5 separate regions of the Homo sapiens genome follow, and regions 1, 3, 4 and 5 are each linked to region 2. Evidence: fine-mapped expression QTL. A gene starts in region 2. Each other region holds a variant in brackets. All regions are shown on one strand. Distances are between the middles of the regions.

Evidence for each region. PIP is the estimated chance that this variant, and not a neighbour inherited with it, causes the effect.
Region 1: its variant is fine-mapped to the expression of EXOC2 in prefrontal cortex (CommonMind, PIP 0.95).
Region 3: its variant is fine-mapped to the expression of EXOC2 in CD4 T cells (CEDAR, PIP 0.95).
Region 4: its variant is fine-mapped to the expression of EXOC2 in atrial appendage (GTEx, PIP above 0.99).
Region 5: its variant is fine-mapped to the expression of EXOC2 in whole blood (INTERVAL, PIP above 0.99).

What each region holds. Positions count from the first base shown.
Region 1 is chr6:615,155-621,764 of GRCh38, reverse strand. It overlaps EXOC2 (exocyst complex component 2), which reads left to right. Exons shown (of 28, transcript NM_018303.6): 5 at 2,222-2,335; 6 at 3,930-4,054. Among named protein-coding and RNA genes, the nearest start is that of HUS1B, 39 kb to the left of the region's middle. The variant A/G (reference allele first, on the strand shown) is at 3,479.
Region 2 is chr6:689,413-696,022 of GRCh38, reverse strand. It overlaps EXOC2 (exocyst complex component 2), which reads left to right and starts at 2,884. Exons shown (of 28, transcript NM_018303.6): 1 at 2,884-3,004. RefSeq lists enhancers at 733-1,241, 2,671-3,557 and silencers at 3,125-3,184, 3,195-3,264.
Region 3 is chr6:498,444-505,053 of GRCh38, reverse strand. EXOC2 (exocyst complex component 2) reads left to right here. Exons shown (of 28, transcript NM_018303.6): 24 at 5,354-5,409. Among named protein-coding and RNA genes, the nearest start is that of IRF4, 110 kb to the right of the region's middle. The variant C/TC (reference allele first, on the strand shown) is at 2,377.
Region 4 is chr6:524,820-531,429 of GRCh38, reverse strand. All of the region lies in intron 23 of EXOC2 (exocyst complex component 2), which reads left to right. Among named protein-coding and RNA genes, the nearest start is that of HUS1B, 130 kb to the left of the region's middle. The variant G/A (reference allele first, on the strand shown) is at 2,326.
Region 5 is chr6:532,142-538,751 of GRCh38, reverse strand. EXOC2 (exocyst complex component 2) reads left to right here. Exons shown (of 28, transcript NM_018303.6): 23 at 6,142-6,283. Among named protein-coding and RNA genes, the nearest start is that of HUS1B, 120 kb to the left of the region's middle. The variant A/G (reference allele first, on the strand shown) is at 4,225.

The sequences.
Region 1 (6,610 bases), 74 kb after region 2:
GGTGAAAAGGACCAGCAAGTAATGAATGCCACATGCATGTATCGGGAGGATTCAGACTATAAATCTTTTAACTCGTGAAGCTAGTGAGAAAAGATGCACGATCGACTCAGTCTCGGTGGAAGTGGTGCCACCTCCCAAAATCTCATCTGTCTTCTTTTCTGTTATCATCATTCTAAGCAAGGCATCCCCCACCCAGTCAAAAAAGGAACATAGTGAAGAAGGACAGTGTTACCGAATGTGAATGGGACGCCCTGTCCTGGCTGAGATGCTCACGCAGTAGGCATTAGACTTTGGAGTGAGTGGCGTCTCGCTGTGCAGGGTTGATAGAGGAACTCCTCGAGATCTGGTTTTGCAGCTCACATTCCCTGTTCTTCTAGGGACCACAGAGGGAGAGGATGTGTAGAGAGGCAAGGAGGGTTTGTGCAGAGATATCTGTGGGGAGAGCTGGGGTAGGCCATGAAGTGGGAGGATGCAGAGCATGTGACCGTCTTCACTGAGGCCTGGTGAGTGGGACCTCCAGGTGACAGTGTTCCCTGCAGCTGTGAGACACAGAGCCTGCATGGACAGTAGAGGTGGCTGCATTTTAGGGGTGTTCTCCATGTCCAGGTGTGCAAGCACCTTGCTAGAGAGAGTGGGCTCCAGGCCATTGGAAGTTGTGCCTATGGGCACTGGTCACCTGAACGTGGAGGGGCTCCAGCAGGGAGTGTCTGCGGTAAGACTGAGACCACTGGAGGCTGAGGAGTGGCAATAGGAAGCAGATGCATCCATGAGTCATGGCTGGAGGAGTCCTCCAGAGCCCTTTAGGGAACCCGTGAAAATGCCCCCAAGACTCAAGTAGGTTCGAATACCTGGCAGGCAGAGAGCACAGACCACCTATGGCAGTACCAGGCACAGGCCCCGAAGGACATTCCATTCTTGTCTCTCTGTCCATCCCACCCTTAACCTCTACGAGAGAGCTGCCATTTTTCCCCCAAACGAGTAAGCAGCCTATTAACTATTGACCTTGGCTGGGAAGAGGGAAGAAAAAAATGTTACCTTTGGGTGAAGTTGGAGTGTGGATCACGAACTAAGCTGCCTAATTTCTGAATTGAGGCTGTGTTTGTAATGAGGAGACAGCAAGACTCTCCCAGAGAATACCAAAGTCATCGGACCTACCCACATTAAAATTCTTTTGGGGTAGGAGTGTTTTCCCCACTGCGTAACTGTTAAAGAGATACTACCCTATCAAATGATCTGTGTCTGGTTTATACCTTATGAGTTGGGCTTGTCCAGTGTTTTGGGGTAGGGGACACATCTTAGAGGGGGCGGCAAATCAGACGAACAAAGTAAACCCCAAGATGGTGGAGACCAACATGCGAGACAGTATAGTCCCTTTGAGGCTGCCGAAGCGTCAGGTTTCATGCCTAGAGTGGCAGAAATGAGCCCTGAGGGACAAGCAGATTCAGTTCATAGACATGCTTGGATTTCATCCTGCAAATGGGGCAGGGGGCGCCAGCAAAGGCTGCCACGTTGTGAGCCTCGGTGGGTACATCTGGCATCCCAGCATGGAACCTGATCTATTGTCGATACTTGATTAATAGTCGAACGAATATATAAATGAATTGATCCAGAAGTCAGTCTTAAACATGTAGGCAAGATGAGGGAGCAGCAGATTATGTATATACCCTGTTGTTATCACAAGCTTTTCTTAAAGTCATTCTAGACATGGACGCAAATGTGAGTGCTTTGTGATTAGATGTGGTTTTATTAGTACTTTGATGATTTCTTAGTATGTCTTAAAACAACTTTCATCTAGGTTTTAACAAAAATCATTTTAACAAAGTGATTTAATATTTTAGAATTTCACTGTATTCAAATTTTGATTTTTATACATTGAATGGGGATTGATGTCATATTTTGATAGGTTTAATAAAACTGTCAACTCAGCCAGATGTCTTAATCCTCTTTAAACCTTATATTCTTTTATTGATGTAATTTCTGTATTTCAACTAGTTTCCTATCTTTTCTATATAAAATCAAAGTTTAAGTGATAGAAAAATCAGCCATGATGTGGGAAATATATTTTGTACATATATACAAACATGTTCTGGGTAATGTATGATTAATATGTATTGTTGTAATGGTTAGTATTCATATGTGTTATACTGGATACTTAGTGATACCTTTTCCATTTTTGTCATAATAACCATTGAAATATATTTTAAACGTTTTTTCCCCTCAGAAGTAAATTTTCGCAGAAGGACTTAGAAATGCTATTCCATGGAATGAGTGCTGATTTTACAAGTGAGAATTTCTCAGCAGCCTGGTATCTTATAGAGAATCACTCAAACACCAGGTTAGTGGATATGGGACTGTCAACTGTGAAGGGTTTCACTCAGATGCTAAAGATGGAATTACACGGTAACTCGAGTTTTAGGTCTGGCTCTGCATACAGTTACATGGTTTTAGGTCTGCGAGCTCTTTGACTTTGCGTTTACCCGTGAACATCTCAGGGTGTCTGTTTCCCTGTTTGTGCAATGGGATGATTCTTTAGAGGTCTCTCATTTCCTACTGTCATTTTATGTTCAATATATTTCATTATTGATGCAGGTTATTAAAAATTTATGGAGCCTTAGCTGGGGACTTAAACTGACATGTATGAATGTGATCTCTCCCTACTCAAATAACATAAAAATTTTAAGTTCTGGGGTAAAACATGGAACACACTGCCTTCTCTGACCATAGGGCAAAGGAAGATGAGTTGGTTTATCATCATGTAAGGACCTGGCTTAAAATTAGCAAAAAAGTAGACAAGGTCATATATCCAATTTGAAGGTTCCCTTCTGTCTTCTAATTACATTTTACTCTGTACAAGAGCAAGTTTGTAGCTTATTTGCAAGATTGATTTAAAATAATTATATTCAGCAAAAAATGTTTGGATAAATCAATGGTTTATTGCTTAAAACTTAAATTATTGATAAATTAGTGTGTTAAAATATACCTTAATATAAATGTTTCATTCATTTATTAGGGTGAAAAGCATTACTAGAAAACATCAGGAAAAGTTGGCATTTTAATACACAGGATAAATTTAACCTGATTGCTTTTTAAAGCAAATGTCCAAGATGAGGAAAGGTTGGCATTTTAATACATAGGGTAAATTTAACCTGATTGCTTTTTAAAGCAAATGTCCAAGATGAATTTTTTCATTGTAGAAGATGATTCTGATTTTACATTACAGATGTAGAATTTCTATTATTATAAGTCAGAATTGAGCTCTGTTTCTTGTGTAGGTCTATCAAGAATACGTTTAAAGTTTTATAGCCGGATTTTCTTAGCTCAAATGGACATAAAACTTCTGAAATACAGAGGCCTGTCTTTAGTTTTCTCTGCTTTAGATATTGAGATGAGATATTGTGGTCTTCCTAGTTATTTAAGTTGTGAATCGACCCACAGGATTCATGTAATTTTATGACTAAGGACAGAGGACTGGATACTG[A/G]TAAGTATAACATTATGCTTAGTGTTCCACAATGCTTCAGTGAATGTACAAAGCAGTTCCATCTTTGAAATGTTGTCTATCACTGGATGATCTGTGTCTTCTTACCTAGTACAGGATGTTCAAAACTCTTTATCTGGTAAATTGTATATATTATATATAGGTTATAAAAACATCTACACATTTACTTCTTAGGGGTCTAATGTATTTGGAATTACCATCGAGGGCTCCGAAAGTCTTGTAGCTGTTGTAATTTAGGCATTCATAATAAATAAAAGGTTTAGATCTACGCAACAATTTGAAAGCTTTTTGATTTCATCTGGCTTCGTATGATATTAATCTGTGTGCTACTTAGCATCGGTTTTAGCATATTTAGTGTTCTCCACTGAAGGAATTATTTTTTCTTTCTTGCATGTTAGAAGTGTCAAACTTTGGTTTCTTTATTTCATTTCAGTTTTGAGCAGCTCAAAATGGCAGTCACCAACCTAAAGAGACAGGCTAACAAGAAGAGTGAGGGCAGCCTGGCCTATGTGAAAGGCGGTCTCAGTACATTCTTCGAAGCACAGGATGCCCTCTCAGGTAAGGCGATCCTCAGAGCCATCTGCTGGCAGCTTCCGCCATGGAAACCCGGCACTGCCTGCAGGGTGTTTACAGGGTGTGACACTCGGTCTGTTTTTATCAAAGTAGAGATCTCAAATGTGCTATAAATATTTGTTGCAGAGTAGGCTGGCATCTCTTTGAAGACTTGGTACTTTAAAAATTTATCTCTGAGGCTTTTGTTAACCCATCTTACATGTGTGAAATGGGAGACTACTTTAACTCTCTGTGATGTCCACACTCCAGGGCTGATACGAAATTAAATCCCAATGCACAACCACCAATATCTTACATATGTGACTAATTCTATAAATGCAACCCATTGTGTGTTCACTTTGGAAAGGCTGATGATAGGATACCAGTCTCTTCAGCCCTTATCGCACAGGCGCCCACGTATGCACGCAGGTAGCTGTCACTGTGCCATCTGTGTATGGGAGGGACGTTGTATGGAGTACAGATGTCATAGCTTTAGACATTTTAATGCAAGATGTTGGTAGAGTTTTTTTTTTATAAAACTGCTTTTAATTAATGAAAGTTTAATTATTGCTATTTAGTAAAAAGTAATCTATATCAATAAAAGTTAACTCAATTCTTTTTAATAGCTAAGATACTTAAAACTAAATACCCATATAGCTTAAGTATCCATAACTCTAACCATGCATTGAGGCCACATCTTCTTCAATTCAGGAAGGTAAATTTTAAAAATTATTTTTATTCCTAAAGTATAGACATTCTTTTATTATTTTAAAAGTCCCCCTCCTCCCTCTCTACTAAAAATACAAAAAATTAGCCAGGCGTAGTGCATACCTGTAGTCCTAGCTCCTTGGGAGGCTGAGGCTGGAGAATTGCTTGAGCGTGGGAGGCGGAGGTTGCAGTGAGCCGAGATCGCGCCACTGCACTCCAGCCTGGTGACAGAGCGAGACCCCATCTCTAAATAAATTAAATAAATAAATAAATAAATAAGCCCCCCTCTTCCTGTGCCATATATACTTAATTGACCTCCAACACATTAAATGTGTATGTGATGCAGTGTATGTGATGCAGCTTCTTCCTTGCAGGTAGAAGTTAGTTTTTTTTTTTTTTTTTTTTTGAGACGGAGTTTCGCTCTGTCGCCCAGGCGGGAGTGCTGTGGCGCGATCTCAGCTCACTGCAAGCTCCGCCTCCCGGGTTCACGCCATTCTCCTGCCTCAGCCTCCCGAGGAGCTGGGACTACAGGCGCCCGCCACTGCGCCCGGCTAATTTTTTGTATTTTTAGTAGAGACGGGGTTTCACCGTGTTAGCCAGGATGGTCTCGATCTCCTGACCTCGTGATCCGCCCGCCTCGGCCTCCCAAAGTGCTGGGATTACAGGCGTGAGCCACCGCGCCCGGCAGAAGTTAGGTTTTTGAAGGGGTAAAATGTGAATGTCTAAGAGGGAACAGAGAAGGTAGGTGCTCTTCCTGATAAATATGTGTGCCTTATGTTTCTTGATGGTGTGCCATTCTTTATTTGTGCTTATTGCTCTTCTCTCTAAATTACCACTGACAGCACATAGAGCAACACAGAGAGATCCACTATTGTCAGTGGACTATGTAGACTAGGAATTACATGGTTCAAATTTGACAGAGCTGATATGTAAAGTTGCTCGGGTAAGTTGTTTTTACTTTTCTGTTATGAAAATTTTGAAATGTGAAAAGTGGAGATGAAAGTATAATCTCCCAAGTAAGGGCAAGGACATTTATGTGCATAATCACAATGATATTATCATAGTTAACCAAATTGGCAATAATTGTTTAATATCATCTCATTCCCAGTTCAGATTTCTCAAATTATCCCCAAACTTTATTTTTATAGGTGATATGTCCAAATCAAGATTCAAATAAAATTCAGGCATTTCACTTAATTTTTAAATCTCTTAAGCCTCTTTTAAACTAAAACCATCCCCTCACCTTTCTTACCCTGTTTCTGGTTTTTCTTTTTTTTTTTTTTTCTTTTGAGATGGAGTCTCACTCTGTTGCCCAGGCTGGAGTGCGGTGGTGCGATTTCAGCTTACTGCAACCTCTGCCTCCTGGGTTCACATGATTCTCCTGCCTCAGCCTCCCAAGTAGCTGGGATTACAGGTGCCCACCACCACGCCCAGCTAATTTCCACGCCCAGCCTGTTTCTGGTTTTTCATGCTATTGATTTGTTGAAGAAACAAGGTCATTTGTCCTGGAAGATATCCCCCACTCTGAATTTGACTGATGACTTCCTTGTGGTGTCATTTAACTTATTTTTCTTGCCATTAAATTGCTTGGACTCATCTAATTGGATATTAGATAAGATTCACTTTCAACACTTTTAGGCATGGATAGTGCTGTGCTTCCTGTTTCATCACACCAGGCAGGAGTGCATTCGTGTCTGGGGTCTCCTGAACAGACACTGCAGTGGATCAGTAGCTTCAAGGGGGGACTGGGAACGAACAGGTGAGACAGATAGATAAATATGTATGTATACACATACATACACACACACACACACACACACACACACCCACACCCACATATACTTTTCAAACCTC
Region 2 (6,610 bases):
CATCAGCGGTTCCCTCTTTACATGTTTTGTTAATAGCTCCCATCTTAAAACAGACTTTTTCCTTGATACCATGCCTCTCTAGCAACTACCGCCCATCTCTGCTCCCTTTGTCACACAACTCCTCAGAGGGGTTGTCAAAGTAGCCAGATGAAAATACAGAACATCCAGTTAAATGTGAATTTCAGATAGTAACAATTTAGTATACGTATGTCCCGTGCAATATTGGGGCCGTACTTTTACTAACAAATACTAAAACTGTGTCTGGAATTGGTAAGTTCTTGGTCTCACTGACTTCAAGAATGAAGCCGCGGACCCTTGCGGTATGTGTTACAGTTCCTAAAGGCGGCGTATCTGGAGTTTGCTCCTTCTGATGTTCAGATGTGTTCGGAGTTTCTTCCTTCTGGTAGGGTCGTGATCTCGCTGGTTCAGGAGTGAAGCTAGAGACCTTCGCGGCGAGAGTTACAGCTCATAGAGGCAGTGTGGACCCAAAGTATAAACAGCAGCCAGATTTACCCCAAAGAGCAAAAAAATAAAACTTCCACAGTGTGGAAAGAAACCGGAGCAAACTACCACTGCCAGCTCGGGCAGGCTGCGTTTATTCTCTTATCTGGCCCCCACCCACATCCTGCTGATGATTGGTCCATTTTACAGAGAGCCGATTGGTCCATTTTACAGAGAGCTGATCGGTCCATTTTGACAGGGTGCTGATTGGTGCGTTTACAATCCCTGAGCTGGACACAAAAGTTCTCCACCTCCCCACGAGATTAGCTAGACACAGATTTTGGACACAAAGGTTCTCCAAGTCCCCACCAGAGTAGCTAGATACAGAGTGTCGATTGGTGCATTCACAAACCCTGAGCTAGACACAGGGTGCGGACTGGTGTGTTTACAAACCTTGAGCTAGATACAGTGTGCCGATTGGTGTATTTATAATCCCTGGGCTAGACATAAAGGTTCTCCAAGTCCCCACCAGACTCAGGAACCCAGCTGGCTTCACCCAGTGGATCCCGACCGGGGCCGCAGGTGGAGCCGCCTGCCAGTCCCGAGCCATGCGCCCACACTCCTCAGCCCTTGGGTGGTCGATGGGACTGGGGGCCGTGAAGCAGGGGGCAGCGCTCGTCGGGGAGGCTCGGGCGCACGGAAGCCCATGGCGGGGGGGGTTGGCTCAGGCACTGCAGGCTGCAGGTCCCCAGCCCTGCCCCGCGGGAAGGCAGCTAAGGCCCGGGGAGAAATTGAGCACAGCAGCTGCTGGCCCAGGTGCTAAGCCCCTCACTGCCCAGGGCCGGCGGGTTGGCTGGCCGCTCCGAGTGCCGGCCCGCTGAGCCCACGCCCACCCAGAACTCGCGCTGGCCCGCAAGTGCCGCACGCAGCCCGGGTTCCCACCAGCGCCTCTCCCTCCACACCTCCCCACAAGCTGAGGGAGCCGGCTCCGGCCTTGGCCAGCCTAGAAAGGGGCTCCCACAGTGCAGCGGTGGGCTGAAGGGCTCCTCAAGCACAGCCAGAGTGGGTGCCAAGGCCGAGGAGGTGCCCAGAGCGAGCGAGGGCTGTGAGGGCTGCCAGCACGCTGTCACCTCTCAAAACAATGTTTTAGTAGAAGTATATCCCATGCAACATTAGTTTAGTGATAAATATATCTATACTACAAATTACTTGTTGTTTATCTGAAATTAAACTTTACTGGGTATTTGTATTTTTATTGCTAAATCTGCCAACCTAGGTTGTTGAAACTTACTTTTTTCCACTTCACTTAATATTCTTTTCACAGTCCACTCTGACGAGATGTAGCTTCCCCACACTCCTTTGAAACTGCTTTTGTCAAGGATGCCAATGACTGGCATATGCCAAACTCAATTGTCTCTGGAGTCTTGGCCTCACAGTACTTCTGAACATTGGCTATCAATTCCTCCTTCCTGAAACTATTTAGCTTCCAGAATCCGCTACCCCCACTTTCCTGATTGTCCTTCCTCCCTGGCCATAGCCCCTGAACCCGAGCTTCCCCCAACCTAGAGCATCCCCTGACCCTAAGTATCCCCCCAACCCTGAGAACCCCCTGACCCCGAGTATCCCCCGACCTCGAGAACTCCCCGACCCCGAGCATCCCCCCAACCCCCAGCATCCCACGACCCCGGGCATCTCCCCCGATCCTGCGCATCCCCTGACCTGGTATGGCGCCCTGACCCAGTGCAGCCCTCAAACCCCTGCAGCCCCCTGACCCCATGCATCCTCCTGACCTAGGGCTGCCCCTGACTCAATGTTGCCCCCGGACCCCAGTGCCTCCTCCTGACCTGAGGCACGCCCCCCAACCTGGTACAGTCCCCTGATTCCAGTGCATCCTTCTGACCCAGTGCTGCCTCCTAACCTGGTGCATCCTCCTTACCCAGTGTGGCCCCCTGGGGATGCACACTCCAGTGCATCCTCCTGACCTGATGCTTCCTCTGGTCTCGGTGCAGCCCCCCTGACCTGGTGCAGCCCTCTGATTCCATGCATTCTCTTGACCTTGTGCATCCCCCTGTTCCGGAGGGGTCCTCTGACCCGATGCAGGGCCCATCGTTGTGAACTGTGGCCCACAAACGCACTATCATCCCACAGTCTCCCTGAGATGACCCGAGGGCACGGGGATGGATGGTGCACCCGGCCTGCCCCTTGAGCTTGTATCCTTCTTTCCCTCCCTCACCGCTTCCCGCCACCGCAAAGACGCCCAGCAAAAACCTCCTACTCGTGTCCATTCAGGCAGCTGGGTCCCTCGGAACCCAAGGCATTCCAGCGTCCACCGCCCACGGCCCCTGCTGACCTCCAGCACCCGCGCCGGTCTCCTCCCCTCCTCTACCCTCCCCTGAAGGCTCCGCCCATCGAGGACTCGGCGCTCGACTGCCAGGCGGATCTACACGCTCGGCGCTCGCGGCGGGCGGAAGTGAGGTGCCGGCGGCTGGCGGCCGCGGAGTCTTCGGCGAGACCTACCGGGCCCTGTCTGTGCCGGCCGTGAGCTGCGGCAGGACGGCTGGAGGTATGTGTGGGAGGCTGGAGGGCCTGGCCGAAGGCCAGCGGGACATGGACGTCAGCTGCACGGAGGTGGCCGCCTGCGGCGTCCGTCCAGGCCTCAGCGGTGAAGGGACAGCCGCGCCCACTGGCGCCGTCGGTCACCTGCGGGGCCCCGCGACCCCCCGCGGTTCCCAGCCCCGCAGCCCCCATCCCCGCCGTCAGCCGCCTGCTGGGCTCCGCGCCCACCCCCGCCAGTTCGCACCCCCGCGGTCCCCACCTGCGCCGGTGAGGGGCGTGGGCTGCAGAGGGCTGACTCCAGGCCCCGCCCGCTGGAGCTGGCCCCAGACTGCGCCGCTTCGCCCTTGCGCAGTTGCCACTCCGTGAGATTTGAGAATTTCTCCGGAAAAGTGAACGCGAGGCGGGTGTTACCTGTCTGCCTAGGCGTGCATCCCGCTCTGGCTGTCCTGAGCGCTTAAAAGGCGCCTGCCGCTGTTGTCAGCGTTTGCGTGCACGTACTTGATCCTCGCGCGGGTGTATGTACGCTGCCGTGTGACCCATTTTACGGATAGGGGAGCGGCGGCTCAGAGTGCTTGAGCAAAGAGCCTGAGGTCCTGTTGTAGCTGCCATTGAGACCTTGCGCGCCGGCTCCAGGTCCGCACACCAGCAGCCTGGAAGCCTGGTGATGCGTAACCCTGTATCCCAAGATTGTTAAGAAAACACTTTAGTAATTCCGAGAAATAGTTCTTGAAAGAACTCGTCTTTGAATGGAAGTAAGTTATTTTTAATCTGCCAAAGGTCAACATACTAATAAGTCTGAGAAATTTTAAGTCTGATGCCTTTATGAATCTGTGAGTAAACTTACAAGGAACACTTAAAAAATATTTTTTCTAAGTTAGCCACACTTTAATTAAATCTTTTTGTGTGCACTATGCAATATTGAAAAGTTACTTCTGAGCTTATGTGGATCTGTCTTCTAATGCATAATAATGTTTTGTTTATGAATGTTAGTATGTACTGGCCCATGCTTTGTGTAACTGACTCCTTTAATGACAAATCAACTGAAAGCCAGAATCTTCTCAAAGATGATTTTTTTGTGCTAAAAGTTGGCGATTCCCAGAGTAGTAATAGAAAGAGGGTGATGTGTGCTTAGTACTTACATGTTCACTTGTTTGTCTAAGTAGAAACTTAATAAATTAAAGCAGAGAAGCAGAGTTCCCCCAGTGTGACTTGGACCAACTCTTGGAAGTTTTAGAAAGTGATCTTTTTTTCTTGTCAAGTATTTAATTTCCTGTATTGAATGCCATTTTGAACTACAGTTGACCCTTGAACAACACTGGGGTTAGGGGTGCCCACGCAGTCAAAAATTTCCATGTAACTTTTGACTTTCCCAGGACTTTACTAATAGCCTACTGTTGACCAGAAGCCTTACTGATACATAAACAGTTGACTTACATGTATTTTGTATGTTATACGTATTATATACTGTATTCTTAAAGTAAGCTGAGAGAGGAAAATGTTAAAATCACAACAAATGTATTTACTCTTCTTTAAATGAAAGTGGAGAATCATGAAGGTTATTATCCCCATAGTCTGCATGAGTAGATTGTGGAGGAGGAAGAAGAGGAGGGATTTTCTCAGGAATGGCAGAGATGGAAGAGATGGAGGAAGTGAAAGGGGAGTGGGAGATGCAGGCACACTCAGTGCAACTTTTGTTGAAAAAATCCGTGTATAAGTGGATCTGTCTCATTCAAACCCATGTTGCTTAAGGGTCAACTGTATTACTTTTCTAAAAGATGGTTATTAACTTGCTAAGTTCTTGGGAGCCCATTATGTAAGAATCATATGGGAAATGAAGTTGGTACTGAAAAAATAGTCTTCTAGCAAAGAACTTTTAATATTTCTAGTGTCAAGCAGCAGCAAGATTAGGCCATACAGGAAGTGCTGGTTACAGAGGTGTCCTCTCAGTTACTTTTCCACTCATTCTCCAGTTTACGCATCTTAATCCAGCCTGGGTTCCTAGTCCAGCGTCTGCCACATAGTAGGTGCTTAAATGTTTATTGAATGGATGAATTTTAGGTCACTGTTGAGAGGATTTTGAAACTGGGAAATAACATTCATTGATCACTCTGCTAAGCGGTGTACTAGGATGTTGATTGTACTCAGATCCTGGGGAATATGTTCTTGGACCTTCTGGACTGCCTGCTGAAATCACATGGTGATAGTGTGGACTTCTAATCATATGCTTTAGAGTATGTTTATATTAGTCAAAAATTATTATTGATATGAATACACAAACTTAAAAGTAATTGTAATGAAATTATGAATCTTTTTTGTATTTTTAAAGACAGAGTCTCACCCTGTTGCCTAGGCTGAAGTACAGTGGCGAGATCTCTGCTCAGTGCAAGCTCTGCCTCCCGGGTTCACGCCATTCTGCCGCCTCAGCCTCCCAAGTAGCTGGGACTACAGGCGCCCGTCACCACGCCCGACTAACTTTTTGTATTTTTAGTAGAGACGGGGTTTCACCGTCGCGATCCTCGTGACGGTGGACCTCGTGATCCACCCACCTCGGCCTCCCAGAGTGCTGGGATTACAGGCGTGAACCCCTGCGCCGGGCCGGGAAATTATGAATCTTAAAGCGATGGGTGACACACGCATCGGCATCCTTCAATCTCAGTTTGTTTATTGATTGAAAGGGGGTCTTGTTCTGTCACCCAGGCTAGAGTGCAGTGGCACAGTCACAACACACTGCAGCCTTGAGCGCCATGATTCCAGAAATCCTTCTACCTCAGCCTCCCAAGTAGCTGGGACTATAGGTGCGTGCCACCGGGTTCGGCTCATTTTAAAAATTATTTGTGGAGGTGAGGTCTTCCTACGTTGCCCAGGCTGGTCTTGAACTCCTGAATGCAAGTGATGCGCTGGCCTCAGCTTCCCAGTGCTGGGACTATAGGTGTGACCCACTGTGCCTGGCTGATCTCAATTTGAAAATCACAGAGTCAAAAGGTATTTTTGGCTTAGGCGTCAAAGCAACTATACACTGGTCCTTGGTCTAATCTGGTCTGCTTCATAGTACTGGCTGAGTTGCTTAGATGCTTTGGACTGTTTCCTTTTTTGTGTATTCAGAGAATACATGCAGTTAGATTATCTCTGAAATCCTTCCTGCCTTGAAATTTTCCAACTCAGTGAATCCTATAACCACCTAGCACTTGTCTTATAGCACTTGTGTTGTGTTAGGGACAATATTATTAATGGTGTTTACATACACCAGTAAAAGACTAAGCTCATTCTGGATCGGGATTAGTTTTAATTATTTTTGTATCTTCCAGTCTTACTGTATGCCTGACACATATATTAAAAATCAAATAATATTAGCCTGGATTCATAAGGGGTATTTTTGCCCTCTCAATTAAAGAATAGCTAAGAACTAAACTCTGTAGTATTGAGTGTAAGTCCAGCAGAAGCTCAGAGGTAGGAAGGATCCGTTGGGGCTAGAGTAATTGGGAAGCTTTGATGATAAGAGCTTGATGAAGGAAGGCGTGTGAACACCTGGGCTGCATACCAGGAGCAAAGGCCCAGGGGCTGGTAAGTGAGTGCATTTTGGATTATGGGTGGAGTGCCTTGACTGACAGGCAGA
Region 3 (6,610 bases), 190 kb after region 2:
CAGCAGCTAGACAGTCATGGCAGGACCATTGTCCAAACTTAATACCTTGCATTTCAGAAAGAGAAATCAGTGTGCTGTTTCTAGTCATTATGCTTTTTAGTCAACTGTTATGTCTTTAATTTTAAATTAACACCTGAAATATGTGTACTACTTTAGAATTGGCAAGATGCTCCTCCCCACTGACCTGTAAGCTCTCTTAGGGTGGGGGGTCCTGTCTGTTTTGCCCACTTTCTTATATCACCACCTGTTGATGCCCAGCACATGATAGATACACAGCACGTGTTGGAAGAATGGGGGAATTGCACACACGTGGCATTTTCATAACAGCTTCGTTAGCAAAATGGGTCTCGTGATCTGTCTGTTTCGCAGAGTAGGCAGTTGTCTGAAAGATAAGCTGAGTTGTGGAAGGTCATACGATTGGTGTAGGGTTAGCCAGGAAATTCCATCTCAAGTGTTCTTTCTGTCACCTCAATAAACTTAAAAGGAATTATCAAGCACTAACGTTACTGATAGTGACATTGGAATGAAATTCAATGGGAGGAGGACATATGCCACCAAAAATAATTGCAGCATGGCCCCTCTGTCACCGTCACTGGCCCTTTGAAAAAGGTTCTGTCACCAAAAATCAGATTCTGGTCCTGCCGCCAGGAGCCACAACTGAGGTCCTTTGAAACTCATCCCACACATCGTTCTGCCATCACCGCGAGGCCTCAGCCGCTTCCATAACGGATGCACACGGAGCCCCTCTCTGACGGCCTCTGCCTCACCTTCTCCGTCTGACCTCCCATTTAAGGAAGAGACTGCGAGGCCGCAGGCGAGCCCTGCATCACCGTACGTCACCGTCCCAGCCCCTGCCTGGTCTGGGCCTCCTCTCAGTGTTCGCATGTGCATGCCTTTACCCTGGCTGCCAGCACCTTCCTCTGCCCAGTCGGGAAAGCACGTGGCTACTGCTTTTGCCAACGGTGTTGGCCGTCAGAGCTGCATGGAGCCAGCGAGCCGGGCCACCCCAGCACCTGTCCCAGCACGGGCTTCTTTGGACACAGGTGTTTGAAAGAGCTGACATCCTCCCACAGACAGATTTTGGATAACATTTTGAAACAGAAAACAAGCAATTGGAAGTGAGTGCTTTATGGGAGTAAAAGTCTTACTTGGACCCAAGAGCCCACGGGACAGGCTGAGGAGGAAGGCGAGGGTGCGGGCGTGCTACTCGGCTGGTCTCTCCCTAGGCCAGTACCCAGCTGTGGCCGGAGTGAAGAGAGAAAGGAAGCGAAATTCTGAACGAGGAAGACCACAGAGATCTTACCGGTTTCCCAGACACGGACACTATCTGGTCTCTAGGCCCTTTGCCCTTCCTCTGTTCCTATCCAGTACTATTCTTTAACCGTTTAAGGACTTCACAAAATAAATATAGCAACCAAACATATAACAAATTATTTTAAATTGAAGTATAAATTTTTTTATGTTTAGTTTTTGTGGGTTCATAGTAGGTGTATACACTTAGCAGTTACAAGAGAGATTTTGATACAGGCTTGCAAATGCGTAATAAATAAATACCACATCATCAGGGCAAATGCGTAATAAATACCACATCAGGGTAAATGGGGCAAAGATGTTTTTTACAACATGAAATTCTTTCATATGGCCATCCTGCATATATTGGCAGGTCAAACTTGTAATAACTAAGCACTTTGGGGTCTTACATATACTGGAGATGTATACGTGTTCTACTTGGAGCACCATATGCCTTGAGCACCTCTGCCATGTGCCTAGTGGCATCCTCCATGTAGTAGGATCTCAATGAATTTATGTTAGTTGAATGAATGAGAACTTTTAGCCATTCCCTTAGAATGAACAATTTCAGCCCAATCGGTAATAAAAAAAAAAAAAAGTACTTGCTCCTGTATTTAATTCAGCGATTAGCTTTTTGGAGAGAGACCATCAATGATTTATTTTTATATTAAAGTTTTTGTTACCAAAAATTATAATACCAGCACAGGCACTGCACTGGGAGGTTATGATGGCAGCTCGCAGAGCTCCGCCTCACTCCGGCCCTTTCCGATGCATCCAGTTGAATGCTGCCTCTTTGAACCTCACTGGCCTGATGTGTGGTTTGACTAGCGGTACCACTTCCTGTCCACACAGGACCACACATTTTTCCCTTCTCTTTTTCCAACATTACCAGTTATTTGTATGAAGCAGTTATTTCGTTTTTTTGTGTGAGGGGAAAGAAGGCAATTATTTCCTTTTTTTCATTCAAAAAGATAAAATCTAGAAATACAAAAGTTCTTTCTTGTCCAAGGTTACGTCTTTGAGCTCCTTATATTATCCATGTGAAACCTGTGCTCGACCCAAAATAGGAAGCTTGATTTTTTTTTT[C/TC]CAAATTTTCTGCCCACAAAAATATGGTTCTTTTGGTTCAAAGGGTCCTGTGCCTTTATTCTTCCCATTCATAGCTTTGTCTTCAGAATTGCATTGAGCAGTTTACACTTCACCTCTTTTACGGGGTGTCTTATTAGTAATGCTTAGGCGGGTGGGTTCTTGCCAGGAAGTGTTTATGATGTCGGGGTCCGAGTGGGAGTTGAGTTCACAGCAGGCTGTCACTGAGCATGTGACACCGCCTGGCTTCACTCTAAGTATAATTTTCTGCTTTTTAGTCAGCACTCTGCCCCCACTCTTTTCTTTTACATTGAGGAATTTCAAAAGTTAAAAACTGCCTTCGCATTTCCAGTCATCCTTGCACCGTAGCACATCGTTAGAGCCCCAAATCCTGACACTTGTTCTTGCAGGAGTGTTGACAGGACCCCGGTTCTCACTGAGGGCAGAGGCTGTGAATTTTTTATTCTGTTCCTTAGAGCATCGAAAATAGCAGCTTACTATTGTGCTTCGATTTTCAGTAAGTATGTATGTTACCTGTGCGTCTACATGAGCTGGTCCTCCATGGCGTGCGGCTTAGAGACCAGACCTGAGCATGTGGATCTCCGCCCCTGGGTGGGGCTGCCCAGAGGGTATGAGCGGCGAGGCCAGGCCCCAGTGCCCCCACAGCAGCGGGAGCAGTCTGGGGACACCGGGGGGTGTGGCTTTCCTCCTGCGGGAAGAAAGCCTCTCTGGTCTCCAGACGAGTTCGTTTATTTCACTTTCACTTACAACAGGCTCTTTCTGTTCTTCTCTCCTGCCTCCTAGATAAGACTTCTTACCTTGCAATTATCCTTTTTCTCAGGAAGAATCCATTAATTTCTGGATTATATTGAATTACTCTTCACTCAGCCATCTCAGCAAAATAGACTTAATAAGCACACTGTTTTTGTTTTGAGGAGCCAATATATATACATAGATAGATATATCTTTTATATAGAGATATATATATCTTTTATAGATATATATATCTTTTATAGATAGATATATCTATCTATATATATCGATATATATAGATATATAATATATAGATATATAATATATATAATATAATATAGATATTATATATAGATATATATAATATATATAGATATATATAATATATAGATATATATAATATATATAGATATATATAATATATAGATATATATAATATATATAGATATATATAATATATATAGATATATATAATATATAGATATATATAATATATATAGATATATATAATATATAGATATATATAATATATATAGATATATATAATATATATATATAGATATATATAATATATAGATATATATAATATATATAGATATATATAATATATATAGATATATATAATATATAGATATATATAATATATATAGATATATATAATATATAGATATATATAATATATATAGATATATATAATATATATAGATATATATAATATATATATAATATATATAGATATATATAATATATAGATATATATAATATATATAGATATATATAATATATATAGATATATATAATATATATAGATATATATAATATATATATCTTTTGAGGAGCCAATAGATATATAGATATATAGATATATATAGATATGTATATCTATATGTCTCTATATATATCTCGATATATACCTATGCCCTTGATATTGATCTGTATATGAAATTGGCTCCTCAAAAGAAAAACCGTGTCCTTATTTGTATACCGTAGTGTGTGACACAATCAAAACCTAGTTCTATATTTGGAATATGCAAATGCCCGTTCAAAAGGTTGATTATAGTTCTTGATCTCTATCTCAACTTTCCCAACTAACCAGTAGCGTGGATGAGACTCTGGGAGAATATTTTCCTTAATGTTGTTACTGGGAACATCCATGCTTTTACAGTGCAGCATTTTCCCTGTTCTATAGAGGAGATGTTCTCAGTGTGTGCAGCTCTAGAAGGCATCTGGAATCTCCCACTTCAAGGGAAAGGAATTGTTTTGGAAACACAATAAAACAGTATTTTGTTTTTATGGGGTTTTTTTCCTGCAAAATGATGATAATGAAAGCTCTTAGTGAACGCTGTGAATGCCAGGACCTATGGCATGCATCCCCCTTCATCCTCACTGCAGCCCCCCAAGGGTGGGACAATTATTATTCTCCTGTGACAGATGAGAAAACTGAGGCTCACAGCCTTCTTGCCAAAAGTCACAACTAGCAGCTGTCGAAACTGGGGTTTGGTCCCCAATAGTCAGACCTCAGACCCCACATTCTTAAATCCTGTGTGTTTCTGCTTTTGAGCAAAGTGAGGCTCATTGAACTTGTACCTAAAATCTGATGTTTTATTTTGTCCAGGCTTTAACTTGCTTACAGAATCAAATTCAGTTTTATAAGGAGTTTCTCCTAAAAGTGATTCCTTAAGACAAAAATGGTCCTTCTGCTCAATAACTTGACTTTCACCTTTGGTAGTAAGATGCTATAATTGATATTTAATGTGCATTTTATAAGCATTGTTAAACACCCTCTGTATTTTGTGTTACTGCTTATACTGAGTGTGTGTGTGTGTTTTACAGTATATATGTTTTACCGTATATGTTTTACAGTGTGTATATGTTTTACAGTATATATAGATACTTATCTATATATATTCTCTGTGTGTGTGTGCGTGAAGAAACTGAAGAACATTCTTAAATTTTCATTTTGAGGCCGACTGAGAGCCAGTTATAGAGAACATAAACAGTGACAGAAATGAAAAACAATAAAAGAAAACTTCTCATTTCTTTTTTTTTCTTTTTGACCTGTATGGAAATACTCCTTTCACCATTTGATTCTCAAAAGGAAATAGTGGTGGTGTTACTTTCTGTTTCTCCTCAGAAAACTCTAAAGCATGGGGTACAGCCTGCCAGCAGGGGAGGGGAGCTTGTGTTATTATTAATGCCTTCTTTCTCTCCTTTATTTCAATTTCAGGTGTCAGAAACTATTTAAAAGAAGCACTGGTGAATATAATTGCCGTGCATGCAGAGGTAAAGTATCATTAGATGTTCCTAAGAGATATGGATAACCAAAAAAAAGAAAAAAGAAAGATGTAAATTTGATTATTTCTATGGTGGTCTTTTTTTTCCCTCAGAATGTGTCTTGGGTATAAATAAGATACAGTTCAGCTCTTGCTCGCACTGTCTGTCTCTCTCTGTCTCTGTGTGTGTGTGTGTGTGTGTGTGTGTGTGTGTGTGTGTGTGTTTAACTGTGAGTCTTTCTCTGAAATTGTATGTTTTCTTTGATAATTCCAGCTAAATTCATAAATATTTGAAAGGTGAAGATAGATTGCAAGGATGTTTATCCTTCAAAGAATAGTAAATCCCTTATCTTGGAAAATGAATTAACCTCTTTTTAGCCTGTGTACAAATAAGCACTGGTATCTGATTCCTGTAGCAGTGGCTGGGATTCCAGAAAGGCAGACACTGCTTAGAAAGAGACTCGGGGCAGGCCGACACTGGAACAGATGCGTGGTTTCCTGTCCGTGGTTGACTTAGGGTCATGCAGACAGTATTGGTGCTTCTGGGCCATGCGAAAACTTGCTCTCACTTGACACGCTTTCATCTTAAGCTTTGTGTTAACATCCTCAGTGAACATCCTGGTTAGGAGGACTCTTCTGAGGAACATTGAAAGAAGAGACCAGAGCTACCACCATGATCTATGGCTGCCTGTTTTCATTCAGTCATTTCAGGATTTGTTACTCACTGCTTTGCCAACACTTTGAGAGTGGCTGTGGCTCACAGACTAATGGGGGACCAGATAAAGTGGGGCAGATCAAAGAGGCTACCATTCAGTCGTTTCCACCGTTGCCCAGGTGCCTCTTGGGCGACAAGCATCCAAGAAGGGTGTTTTTAGGTTTATGCCGCCTGCTGCATCCAAAAGTATCTGAGGCCATCAAGGTAAACTGAAAAAACATGGTTAATTAAGAGTGAAACCCGAATATGACCAGGGAAGACAAAGATAACACTACCTGGTTCCTAAATTTGGCTAGAAGTTTGAAGCGCCAAGAGCAGAAAGAAAACTATAGAACGTTACAGTTTCCAGTTCTTATGAAAGGGAAACATACAAATTCATCTCTAACAATAGAGTTTTTATATGATTTAACTCAGGCAGGAAGTCACCACATAGATCTTTTTATAAGGAGCAATATTTTTAATTGTGATCTTATAAAAAATATAAAAATTCTGTTTT
Region 4 (6,610 bases), 160 kb after region 2:
TGCTTTTCTGTGCACACACTTTTCTGTGCACACACTTTCTGTGCCCAAACCACATTCAGTTCATACCCTCAAAGTACATCCTTTTAAAGTTTAAGGCAGGTTCTATCAGTATCTTACTTAAAATTCTTACAACATCTTCTCATGATAGTAAAACCGGGGAAGCTGTGCTGTGCCCACCTCTGCCCTGGCACTCTGCCCACTGCCCCAATGCTCCACCTCACAGCCCCTCTCCAGCTGGACTCAACCTCTGCCTTTTTGAAAAGCTCATCCTTCTAAAATATAAATTGGATCCTGTCAATCCCCTGCTGAAAAACCTTCGAGGAGGCTCATTCTCCCTGAGGCTAACCCCAGACTTCTCAGACAAGGTAGCATCCCCACAGGTACCAGATTCCACGGATGCTCAAGTTCCCAGTGTGAAATGGTGTCATATTCGCATGTAACCTATGCACATCCTCCTGTATGCTTTAAATCATTTCTAGATTACTTATAACACCTAATACAATGCCCGTGCTTTGTGAATAGTTGTTAAACTGTATCATTTAGGGAGTCATGACAAGGAAGAAAGTTTGTATATGCTCAGTACAGATGCAGCCATCTGGGTCCCCCACCCCGGAATATTTTCCATTCATGGTTGGTTGAATCCACAGATGCAGAAGCCACTGTTGTGGAGGCCACAGATGCAGAGGCCACAGATGCAGAGGGCCAGCAGTACTCCCTGTGCTTGCTATGAGTTACTTCCCTCTCCACGGGCTCCCCCAGGCAGCAGGCAGGCTGGGTGCTTCGTGCACTGTGAACCCTGTGCCTAGTCCCTCTCACCTCTGCCCCTCTCCTAACCTCTCCTGCCCTTCCGGGCCCTGTGTCCTCTGGGAGCTCACCCAGCCCATCCCCTGCATGTCTCCAGGTCGCATTGGCCTACCTCCATTCGTGATGCTCCCAGAGCAGCTCTTGCCACTCTCTGTGCCCGCGGGAAATGTTTTGTCGTTATCTAGCTCCTTGCTGGACAGTCTCAGCACAAGGCCGTCATTTGGGTGTCTTGTTCTCAGAGTTTTTAGCATAGTGCAGTCTGTGACACTCAGCTGATGCTGTGTGTGTGTTTGTGGAGTAAATGAAGATTGGCATTTTCTATAATAATATACCATCTCTCTAAATGTGCCAGTTGCTCCTTCTCTTCTAAGTGTTTGCCATATGCTTTTGCCTGATTTTTCTCAAAATTTTCTCAGTAGGAAAGTACATTATACAGTGTTCTAGCTTCCACTGTTCTTCTGATTTGCTTTTTAATAAACAGTACACGGTGGATATTCATATTTGCTGAATGGGAATGAGTGAGAGTGCTCATTTTCTTGTCCTTTGTGAATTCTCATATGGTAGTTGCATAGACTTGCTAAATTTGAGCAGCTGCGTTTCAATTAAAATGCGACTGTCAAGTGTATCTAACACATCAGCACGTCTGTCTGTTTAACTATTTAAACTCTTACCGAACAATGTATTACCTTGCACCATGCAAAAAGTAATACATTTTTCGGTAATAGTTAAAATGAATTTTGTTAAAGTTCGTATCTTCCCCTGTGATTAGCATGTAACGACATTAACTGTTCACACATCTAACACATCAGCAATTCTATCTGTTTAGTTATGTAAACTATTACTGAACAATGTATTACTTTGCATCACCATGCAAAAAGTAATACATTGTTCAGTAATAGTTTAAATGAATTTTGTCAAAGTTCATATCTTTTCCTGTGATTCACATGTAAGTACGTTAACTGTTCACTCTGAAATCATGCTTATCTTAATTGGTTATGTTCAAGGCTATTAAATCACTTGTGATATTTCTTTGAGAATAGAAAAAAATCATGACACAGCCCCTCTGAGTTTCCTGCGCTTCAGTGATGACTATAAAAATTTAGAATGGGCCACCGAGTTTCACTCTCAACAAAGTGATTCTTCTCTGTCGTCACTGAAATCTCCGATTGTTACCGAGAAAGAGGATTTATTTGCCCCTGATGCAGAAGAAGACTTTTCTTTGCCAGCCCTCTCTCAGACCTGCTGCCTCCGTTAACAAACAGCGAGGCATCTTTAGTGTATGCCGAACACCGGCAGGGGCAGTCGAGAATGTCTGTCAGGTGAAAGGCAGGTCTTTCCCATCCACCCGCTCCAAGGTGTCTTCGGAAAACAGACATCTATGAAGGCCCATTCCCTGAAGGGCGGCGTTAGGTCACAGGACTTCAAGTGCAGGGGCTGCTGGCCATTATCACGAGGCTGTGAATCGTGTGGCAGCACTTGAGTGAGCAGTAACCAGGGCGCGGGGGGGGGTAAAAGGCAGGC[G/A]ATGCCGGGCTAACGGGGATCTTAGGGTTCTTCTGCATCCGGCTAGTTACCACCACTTGGAATTTCAAAGTCCTCACTGGATTTATCTTAGGGTTCTTCTGCATCCGGCTAGTTACCACCACTTGGAATTTCAAAGTCCTCACTGGATTTATCTTAGGGTTCTTCTGCATCCAGCTAGTTACCACCACTTGGAATTTCAAAGTCCTCACTGGATTTATTTAAGGTACCCAGAATCCTGTCTCTGTGACCTTCATATTTTCCAGCCATGACATTGAACTAGACAAGCCTCGGTTGTGAATTAGGATCAGAGCCTAAATGTAATCCTGAGGTTGATCTTAATAAGAGTCTGTAACCTCAGATAATCTTCACTACAAAATTAAGATTCTTCTGGCTGTGTGACATTAAGTGGTGAGGCTTTTTTTTTTAACATAGCTTCGTTTATTGGTTTTGTTTTTTTCCTGACAAACTTTCTTTCATAAGCAAATGGCACATGGCACCATACTACCAGCAATTTATTTACTCTTCCTCAGATTCCAAAAACATGTAGAAGTCATCGGTGCTCGTTTCACTTTTATAAACTCTATTTAGTTCTGTTCTTTGTGTAGTTTTGACTTCATGATTACTAACTGAACCTCAGCCTTGCATAGTCATATAGTGATTTTTAGTTTGTTTAAAGCTGACTTAAGTTGAGACCTTGTGTAAAGTGAGCAGCCAAAATAGTTTGACTATTAATCTTCCAAAATAATTTCAATTAACAACTTTAGTATTATCTTCAGAGTTTACTTCTTCAGAAACTGAATTTTGCAAATCATGTAGGTAACTGATTACTTATTGCTGTAGTTACCAATAAATTTAGTTTCCGATACTGTATGTAGTGATTAAAAAAAAAAATCCAGTTGATTAATTTCATGATTCAACAAGAGATATCCGTTAAAGCCGTAGCGATGTTTTTTTAAATCTTACCGTTGGGTATTTAAATTGTTGTCACCTCTTTATTTGTGTATATGTCAGTAAAGATTATTCTAGTTAGTTCTGAGTCACAAAACTGCTGTTAAGATTTTAATTGTTCTGTTATCTGCAATTATTAAGAGTTCTTAGTATTTGAATTTTATAAATTTTAAATAAGAATACTGTTGGTCTTTACTTACAAATACACATTGAAGTTCACGTCTTTGAAACATTAAATAAGAAAAAAGTATTATTTAAGTTTTCTGTTAAATACTGGTTTTATTTTTTCTATCAAAAAGTCATAAAAATTTAAATTAATGTATATTATTTAAAGTTATTTACTAAGTGAATCTAAACTTAATCATTTTCTATAGGTAAATAGTGAACTTATTTTTGATTCAAATGTGCTTATACTAATTATAGTAATTGAAATTATAATGGGAAAGGGAAAACTTTATATAATTTGTGACATGAGTATGTCTAGGACCATTCTAAAAATAACAGCAGAGTTGGTTGCTTCCATGTATGATGCATATAACCTAGAGTAGGGTAACCTCCTGCCCGTCAGTGGTGTGCCAGAGCACAGGCTTGGGGTGCACAGTCCATCAGTGAGCGAAACTTGTAAGTGTGTTGTCCAGGCAGTGTGCCAAGCAGCATATTCCAACAAATTGAAGAGAAAGAAAATGTAAGTCTAATTATGGAGACAGAGGCAGAAGCACAGCTCTTCTCAAGTCTATGTTTGTTGAATTTTATTTTAAGATCTCTGCCTTTTGGAATGTATCTTGCAGATGTTTTCACTGAATTTTACAAGAGACATTGCACAATTAGGTTATCTCTTGCATCCTGTAACTTAAATCATTCAAAGCTCAGGTCCAGCGTAGAATTTCTAGAGAATAAGAAAAATGCTACAAGAATGGAGATAAGGAGAAATTGTAATTTTTGTTTGATTTTCAAAAAATGGAAAACTGCAGACAGACCTCAAAGTTTAATGTAGCTCTCTGAGAAAATGGACCATTAAAATGTTTTCAGGTCCTTATAAAATAAGTTGTATGTTACATGTATATGTGAATTTATACATATATTCCTTATACATGCATTTATATACACACATTACTAGGTACCCATGTTTAGTAACGTAGTCAGCATTTATTGCATATATACCATGTGCAAGGCAGAGGGCTTTGCATAAATCACCTGATTTAATCTATATAACAGCACCTCAAGGAGTAAGCAGTATTTTTATTCTCATTTTATAGATGAAGCCACTGAGCACAAAGAAGTTAAGTGACTTGCTCAAGTTCATGTAGCTAGGAAATGGTGAGGTAGGGGTTCCGAGTTCAAATCCAGGCAGCCCTTAATTTTAGGCATTGTGCTGTGTTGCTAGACAATAAACAGCCTCCATTAGAAATCCACGAAGAGCCGGGCGCGGTGGCTCACTCCTGTAATCCCGGCATTTTGGGAGGCTGAGGCGGGCGGATCACCTGAGGTCGGGAGTTCAAGACCAGCCTGACCAAAATGGAGAAACCCCATCTCTACTAAAAATATAAAATTAACCGGGCACGGTGGTGCATTCCTGTCATCCCAGCTACTCGGAAGGTTGAGGCAGGAGAATCGCTTGAACCCAGGAGGCAGAGGTTGCCGTGAGCCGAGATTACGCCATTGCACTCCAGCCTGGGCAACAAGAGCGAAACTCTGTCTCAAAAAAAAAAAAAAAAAAAAAAAAATCCACAAAGAAAAAGGCAGATGTGCTGGTAGAATAGACACAAGTTCATGAAATTCACAAAATAACTAATATGGCCAATAAATATAAGAATAGGATAAAATTCATCAATTCTCAAAGAATGTAATTTAAAATACCATTAGGGTATCATTTTATTAAAACCCTCTGGATTGACAGATACTGTAAAGCTTGATAATACCTGCTTTTTGGCAAAGGTACAGAGAAAAAAACTATTCCGTCATCTTTCTAGGAGTGTAAATTGGCCCATCTATACACATACGTGTGTGTGCGTGTGTGTGTATGCACACATTTATATGTATAGAATTTACTTAGAAATTTTGTGTCTAAGAATTTGTCTTAAGGAAAGTTTTACAGAAGTAAGTAAAGAATTATGTACAGTGATGTTTATTGAAACATTTTTTAATATATGTAGAATCTGAAAAACTAAATGCCCATCAGTAGTGAATTGGTTAGATAATTTGTTATATATCTAAACAAATATTATACTTTCTTTATAATGGATGAGATGGATAGATGGATAAGTAAATGCATACCTATATGTGGGGGACTGTACATATATTGGTAGAAAATGTTGATTAAGGAGACATGCATTCATTCTTTCCTCATTTTTATTGAAAAAGACAATGTATCTATTTCATATGTACAATTTGACATGTATACACATATCTTGAAAGGGGATAAGAAGGAGCATGCTAGAAAACTTTAATTTTCTACTTTAAAATTTTGTTTTTAAAAATATTGGGGCAGAATAGATGTATTTTTATTTTAAAAAAAGAAATTTCTATATTTTAAAGAAATGAAAAACTTCATGGAGACAGCATACCCACAAAGAACAGGCACATGCAGTACTAACTTGTTTTCTTCTTGGACACACACTTGATTTGATAGAGAAATGGCATACATGGTGAATTTAGGTTTCTGCAAGTCATTTGACAGTTTTTCCTGATATTTTCAGGAGTCCTAGTTGCTGACTTATTGCCATCATGTCTTCATGTCAGTCTAGAGGAAAGCCTCTAGTCATTGCAAGAACACTCATTGAACAATGTTCAACATTTTATTAGACATTTGAAAATGGAATAAATTCCACTTTGGGTAAATTTGTGAAGAAAAACCTAGTAAAGTTAGCTTAGTAGTAGCACTATCTTACACTTAGAAAGTTTTTACAATGCCTTTATGTAAGCCTGTGATGGAACTATCCTAAAATTAATGATAAAATGTAGCATGCTTTCTTAATTAGAACTACCACAGAATAAAAAGTGCAAGCTTCAGAGGAATTTTGGTTTCAGTAATAGAGGAAGAACTTATCAGACTAACCGTTCCACAGTTAAAAATTGAACTCTGCACAGAATATAGAAACCCAGCTGTGAGAAGCACTGGAGAGCCGTCAAAAGCCGACAGACTGGAGGGGGCGCTTGAACCCTTGCAGGAGGGGAGCTTGCACCAGCCAGATCTGAGGGCCATCCACGACTGCAGCAGGTGCCCAGCACTCCTGCAGAAGGCACAGAGGGATGCAGCCAAAGAAACACTCGATGGAAACTTGAATCTAAAGGAAGGAATAAAAAGAATCAGAAATGGTTGATATGTGGGAAAATAGAA
Region 5 (6,610 bases), 160 kb after region 2:
CATCATAAGCCAGGGAACATACTGAATGCGCATTGCTTTTACACCCTGGTAAAGTGGGAAAATCATGAGTTGAACTCTCATAAGTTGGGACTGTCTGTACACAATTAAATTGTTATCTTTTTTAAAGGAGGCACTGTGTTTTTGTTAGAGACACCTGCCCTAAAAGGCCACTGGACCCTCAGGCATGTCTACTCTGCTGCCTTTCTCACCCCCATCAGTGACCCTTTAGCGCTCCGTCTCTGTTTAACCACTGCATTCCTTAAACACATCACTTTATAAGACTGATTTCCTTAGTGTCAGGATGTTTTTAAAGTTAATCTTTCTTCCTCACTCTCAGATAGCGATTAATGGTAGATGGATCTGACCCTTGCTTTTTGAGCAGGAATCAAGCAGACCCAGTTTTCTATGTTCAGCAGCCAGTGTGAACAGGGTGTTAGTGAAAATGAGGCTGTTGAGTTAATAGAAATAGCTGCTAGCATTTATTATGTATTTGCTTTCAGTGTGCTATGCAAGTTTCCTGAATTATCTGTTTAAATCCTTACAACAAAAAGTATGAGCTGTGTACTCCTGACATTGATCCTGCCTCATCACACATTAATACTGCCATTCTACTCTCTTTTTGTAGCATTTGCCTATTAACTGTTTGCACATCTATTTATTTTCAACTCCTCTTTTCCCTTCTTTTTTTAAAAAATGAGGTGTAATTTACCTACAGTAAAAGACACAAATCTTAAGCTTATGGATTGATGGCTTTTTACATATGCACACGTTCCAGCATCCACCACCAGATGAAAATACAAAACCTTCCCTTGTGCCCTGTTTGAGTAGGCTCCCTTCTCAGCAACGTTCCAGCTGCTATCTGCAGAGAATCATTTTGCCTGTCCCAGAACTTTACGTGGAGTTCCATGCAGTTTGTTGTCTTTTGTATCTGGCTTCTTTTGCTCCAAATTAATTTTTTGAGATTCATCCAGTTGTGTGTACCAGTGAGTCATTTTCTTTTATTGCTGAGTTTGGATAACCAGATTTTGTTTAATCATTCTCATGGTGATGGACATGGGGTTGTCTCCAGTTTTAGGCCTTTATGGATAAAGTTGTGGTGAATATTCCTGTAAGTCTCTTTGTGGATGTTTGTACTCACTGATCTTGGATATAAACCTTGAAGTACAATAGCTGGTCGTGGCACAAGCTGATTAGGAACTCTGAGTAGTTTTCCAGAGTGTACACTCCATCGGTCATCAACTCGAGTGTACGCTCCGTCGGTCATCATCTTGAGTGTACGCTCCGTCGGCCATCAACTCGAGTGTACGCTCCGTCGGCCGTCACCTCATGTGTACGCTCCGTCGGTCATGAACTCGAGTGTACGCTCCGTCGGCCATCAACTCGAGTGTGCGCTCCGTCGGCCGTCAACTCGAGTGTACGCTCCGTCGGCCGTCATCTCGTGTGTGCGCTCCGTCGGCTGTCAACTCGAGTGTACGCTCCGTCGGCCGTCATCTCGTGTGTGCCCTCCGTCGGCCGTCATCTCGTGTGTGCGCTCCGTCGGTCGTCATCTCGAGTGTACGCTCCGTCGGTCGTCAACTCAAGTGTACGCTCCGTCGGTCATAAACTCGGTTATAAACTGCATCCTAGCCAACACTTAATATTACCAATCTTGTTTATTTCAGCCAGTCTCATTGTTGCTTTATTTGGTTTTCCCTAACAATGATGTTAAGCACCTTTTCTTGTATATTCAGATACATTCAGGTAGCTTCTTTCTTGAAGTGCTGTTTAACCCCAGCTCATTTTTAAATTGGATCAGTCATCTTTCTATTGACGATTTTTAGAAGGCTCTAAATAAGTCCTTTGTCATGCATACATATTTTTTCAGTTCATGGCTTGCTGTTTTGTTTTTATAATATCTTTTGAACAGAATTGTTTAATTTTGATGAGATCCATTGTATCAAGCTTTTAAAATGTTTAATGCCTTTCATATGTTGTCAGAATCTTTACCTGCTTCAATGTCCTGAATATTTTTTCCCAGAAGTTTTGTAATGTTAACTTTTATGTTTAGGTCTATGATGTCTATCCTTATGCCAATATTGCATTGTTTTATTTATTATAGGTTTATAGTCAGTCTTGATATCAAGTAGTATGAGTCTTCCAACTTTGTTCTTTTTAAATTGTTTGGGCTATTTTAGGTCCTTTCCATTTATATATAAATTTTAGCCTGTGAATTTTTACCAAGAAAAGGCCTTTTAGGGGTTCATTGAATTTGGAGAAAATTACCAATATTGATGATCCTATTTATTTGTTTAGGCCATCTTTAATTTCTTTCAGCAGTGTTTTGTAGTTTCCATTAGAGATTTTCCATGTCTTTTGTTAAGTTTATTCCTAGGTATTTTATTTTTTATGGTATTGTATTATAATCCTTCGATGTCTATTATATAGAAATATAATTGATTTTTGTTATTGACTCTGCTGCCTCCATAAATTTACTTATTCCATTAGTATGTCAACCTGCTTAGAATTTCTAAATACGTAATGATGTCTTCTGTTAATAAAAACAGTTTTACTTCTTCTTTTTTGGTATTATTTCTTGCCAGATCTCATGGACTAGGACCTCTGGTATAATCTTGAAATAGTGGTGAAAGGGGACAACTTTGCCTTATTCCTGATCTTCTGGAGAAAGCACTCTATATTTGTACCATTTTGTAGATGCCCTTTACACAGCTGATTTTCTTTCTAGTCTTAGTTTACTGAGAATTTTTGTCATGAAAGTATATTGAATTTTCTCAAGTGCTTTTTCATCTGTTGAAAAAATACCACTTCTGCATGATATGTTTTTAAAATTTATTTATAGTTTCTATTTGCCAATAGTTTGTTTGGGTTTTTATGTCTTTGTTCATGAAGGCTATTGGCGTGTGATTTTTTTCTTACAATATCTTGCTCAGTTTGGATATTAGGGTTATACTGGCTTCATTAAACAAAATAGGAAATGCTTTCAGCCTCTATTCTATGAAAATGTTTGTGTGTGCTATAATTTCTTCCTTACATGCTTGGTAGAGTCACAAATGAAACCACCTGGACCTGAAGTTCTCATTGTCAAGTCCTTGTCTATAATGGATTCAATTAGTTTAATAAATATAGGACTACTTGTGCCAGTTTTTGAAGGTTGTGTTTTTCAGCAGATTAGCAATTTCCTCTATGTTGTCAAGACTTGATGGCATAAAACTGTAATGTCCTTTTACTATCCTTTTAATGTCTTCAGGATCTATAGGAATGTTTCTTTTTTCATTTCTGTTCTTGGCAATATGTGGGTTTTTTTCTTTATTTCTTCATCAGTCTTGCCCAGGAGCTTATCGTTTCTGTTGTTATTCCTTTTTAATTTTTAAAAAATTTCAAATTTTTTAAGAGACAGGGTCTTGCTCTGTTACCTAGATTGGAGTACGGTAGTTGAATCATACCACGCTGCAGCCTCGATCTCCTGGGCTAAAGTCATTCTCTCACCATAGCCCCCAAGTAGCTGGGACCACAGATGCGCACCACCATGCCTGGCTAATCATTTTTATTATTATTTCCAAAGATCCTACTTTTGGCATTGGTGGTTTTCTTTAATATTTACCTTTTTAAGATATTGATTTCTGTTCTTTATCTTTTCCTTCTATTTTCTTTGGGTTTAATTTTCTCTTTTTCTAGATACTTGGGGCAGAAAATTAGAGCAGTGATTTAAGTTTTTCTCCTTTTAAACTTTTCTTTTAAAACATTTTCAGCTATAAATTTCTAGCCACTGGTTCTCTCTTGCAGATTTTGATATGTTATCTCTTCATTGTGTGTTATTAGTATTTCCCTTTTGGATGCCTCCTTCCTTTGAAGAAATCTTACTTCACACTTGTATTTCACATGTCCAGGGAGTCTCTAATCATCTATTTCGGTTTGTGTTTATAGATACTAGAGAAAGAGAGAGATAAAGAAGGGCGAGAGGGAACTCAGAGTTATTGCCTGTCACTGTTTTCCTCAGTAGTTCATCTTCTTCGTTCTGATGTGTTTGATTTTAGGTTAGAGCCCTTTCTCATTACATGGGTGAAATACTCCTTGAACCCTTGCATATCCAAAAATATCTTTCTCGGACTCTGTTAAGAGAATGACACGCTGGCTAAATACAGGATTCTTGGGTTCTGTTCTTTCATTCCTGTAGATTTTAATCCAGTGATTTCAGCTCCCAGTACTGCATGTGAGAAATCTGACGTC[A/G]GACCAGTTCTTTCTTCTTTGTAAGTAAATTATTGTTTTGATCTAGAAGCTTGAAAGTCAGTCTGTCTCTGTCTCTCTCTCTCTCTCTCTCTCTGTCTCTCTCTCATTTAGAGTAAATGTATTAGAAACTAGAAACTTTAACAGTAGTTGCCTAGATATGTGGGCTGTCTTACCAGTCTAGCCTGGCACTCTGCAAGCCTACTCAAGTTGCAAACTTGGGTCTTTCTTTAGATCCAGTTAAATTTTCTCCTACTGCTTGTTTAATGAATACCTTTTCTCTATCTGCTTGTATTTCTTTACTTGAATTTCTATTTTTTGCATGTTAGAGCTCCTGGGTTTATCTTCTAGTCTTGTTGTTCATAGTTTTCATGTCTTTACACTTTTACTCTATGTTTTGAAGTAGTTCTTGCACTTCAGATCAGTCTCAACAGTGACCAGGAGTTCCTTGTGTTAATCTACTCATTTGTTAGCTTTGGAAGTTGTATGTTTCACCTCTGGAAATCTTGTTTTGTATTATACTTTAATCGTCATGAGGGTTTTCTTTCTTTTTTCTGTTCAAGTTGTTGCTTGTCTCTTCTGCAGCTGAGTTTCACTGCTTGGTGGATGTGCCTGTGCATAGCAGCGGACTCCCTTAGACGTGTGTTTATTTTTCACTGTAGTTCGTTGCAGCTCAGGCCTGGCATTGGAGAGAAGCCTATCCCTCTCAGGCCAGTGCTGCAGAAGCAGAACGGCCACCAGCCCCCTGCAGGGTGACCTGGGCCCACAGACTCTCCACACCCCAGACTTCCCATATCCTCCATGCTTGGGTCTCTGCCTCCCCCCTCTTCTTCTTCTGGCCTCCTGCCTGCTGGTGAGACAAGGCACACTCACGTAGGGCTGATGCCAGCCTCCTTACCCTCTTCTGCTCCCACTCCCATCGGGAGCCCCCACAGTCCATGCAGCTGAACTGTGCCAAGGACAGGACTTACTGATAGGGGTCTTTCCTGTTCCTTTTTGCCCATGACAGCGAGCGTGTGTCTGGCCTCCCTGTGGAGTTGCCTTAGACTCGAAGGCCTGACCTGCACGCCCCTCAAGCAGAGCTGTAACTGGAGGGAGAATCCAGGGGAGCCACACTGGGGTTACTGGAGTGTCAGAGCAGGCTTATTTTCTATTGGTCACACTTTTCAAATGAATTAGTTAATATGAAGAAACAGAACATGATTTTAAATGGTTCCTTTTTAATTGTAGTTTACTGGCTATTACAATTTAGTATTTATAATGCCTCTTGCTCTGTGTACAGAAATGAGTGGTTAGTATTTTCAAAAATGAATGATATGGTTAGGCTTTCTGTCCCTACCCAAATCTCCTCTTGATTTGTAATCCCCATAATCCCCACGTGTCAAGGGAGAGACCAGGTGGAGGTCATTGAATCGTAGTGGCCGTTTCCCCCATGCTCTTCTCATGATAGTAAGTTCTAATGGGATCTAATGGTTTTATAAGGGGCTCTCTTCCCCTTCCACTGGGTACTTCTCCTTCTGGCCACCTTCTCCTTCTTCTTGTGAAGAAGATGCCTTGCTTCCCCTTTGCCTTCCACCAAGACTGTAAGTTTCCTGAGGGCTCCCCAGCCATGCATAACATAATTGAGTCAATTAAACTTCTTTCTTTTATAAATTACCTAATCTTGGGCAGTTCTTTATAGCAGTATGAGAACGGACTAATACAATGACCTGTAGTCCATATATGGAGATTATTTTTTCTCCTGCAAAATAGCTATGCTAAAAGAGATCTTTGTTACTGAAAATATATAAAAGTCACGAGTTTTTGTAGGAAAATTGAGAAGTGCTTTTATTATAGTCTGAAGTATTTATTGTTAACATTATTTTACTTTTTCCATCACCCTCAAATAGGCAACTCATACTCTTCATTATGTGTTTATAGGTTAGCATGGCCTCATTGAAAGAACTAGATCAAAGACTCTTTGAAAATTACATCGAGTTGAAAGCAGATCCCATCGTTGGCTCCTTAGAACCTGGAATTTATGCAGGATATTTTGATTGGAAGGACTGCCTGCCTCCAACAGGTAAGTAATAAAGTTTCTTGAGTAATAGATGTGGATATACTTTTATCAATTGATACTTGCTTGAATTCTTTTCATTTTATTCTCATTTTTCTCATATCTACTGAGAGTGAGAGATTAATTTGATTTTAACTTTTTGTTTGCTTAAACCCATTTCTTGGATAGTTTGGAAATTGGACACTTTGTATTATTAGTGGCTTAAAGCTGTTCTTAAATTCTAGAGAATAATTAATGATAACTTGTAATAATTGATCGTTTTAGTAATGCATTCCTGCTTCCTGTGATCTTCTCACATAGATACAATAGAGTGATTGTGAGTGACAGTGGCAT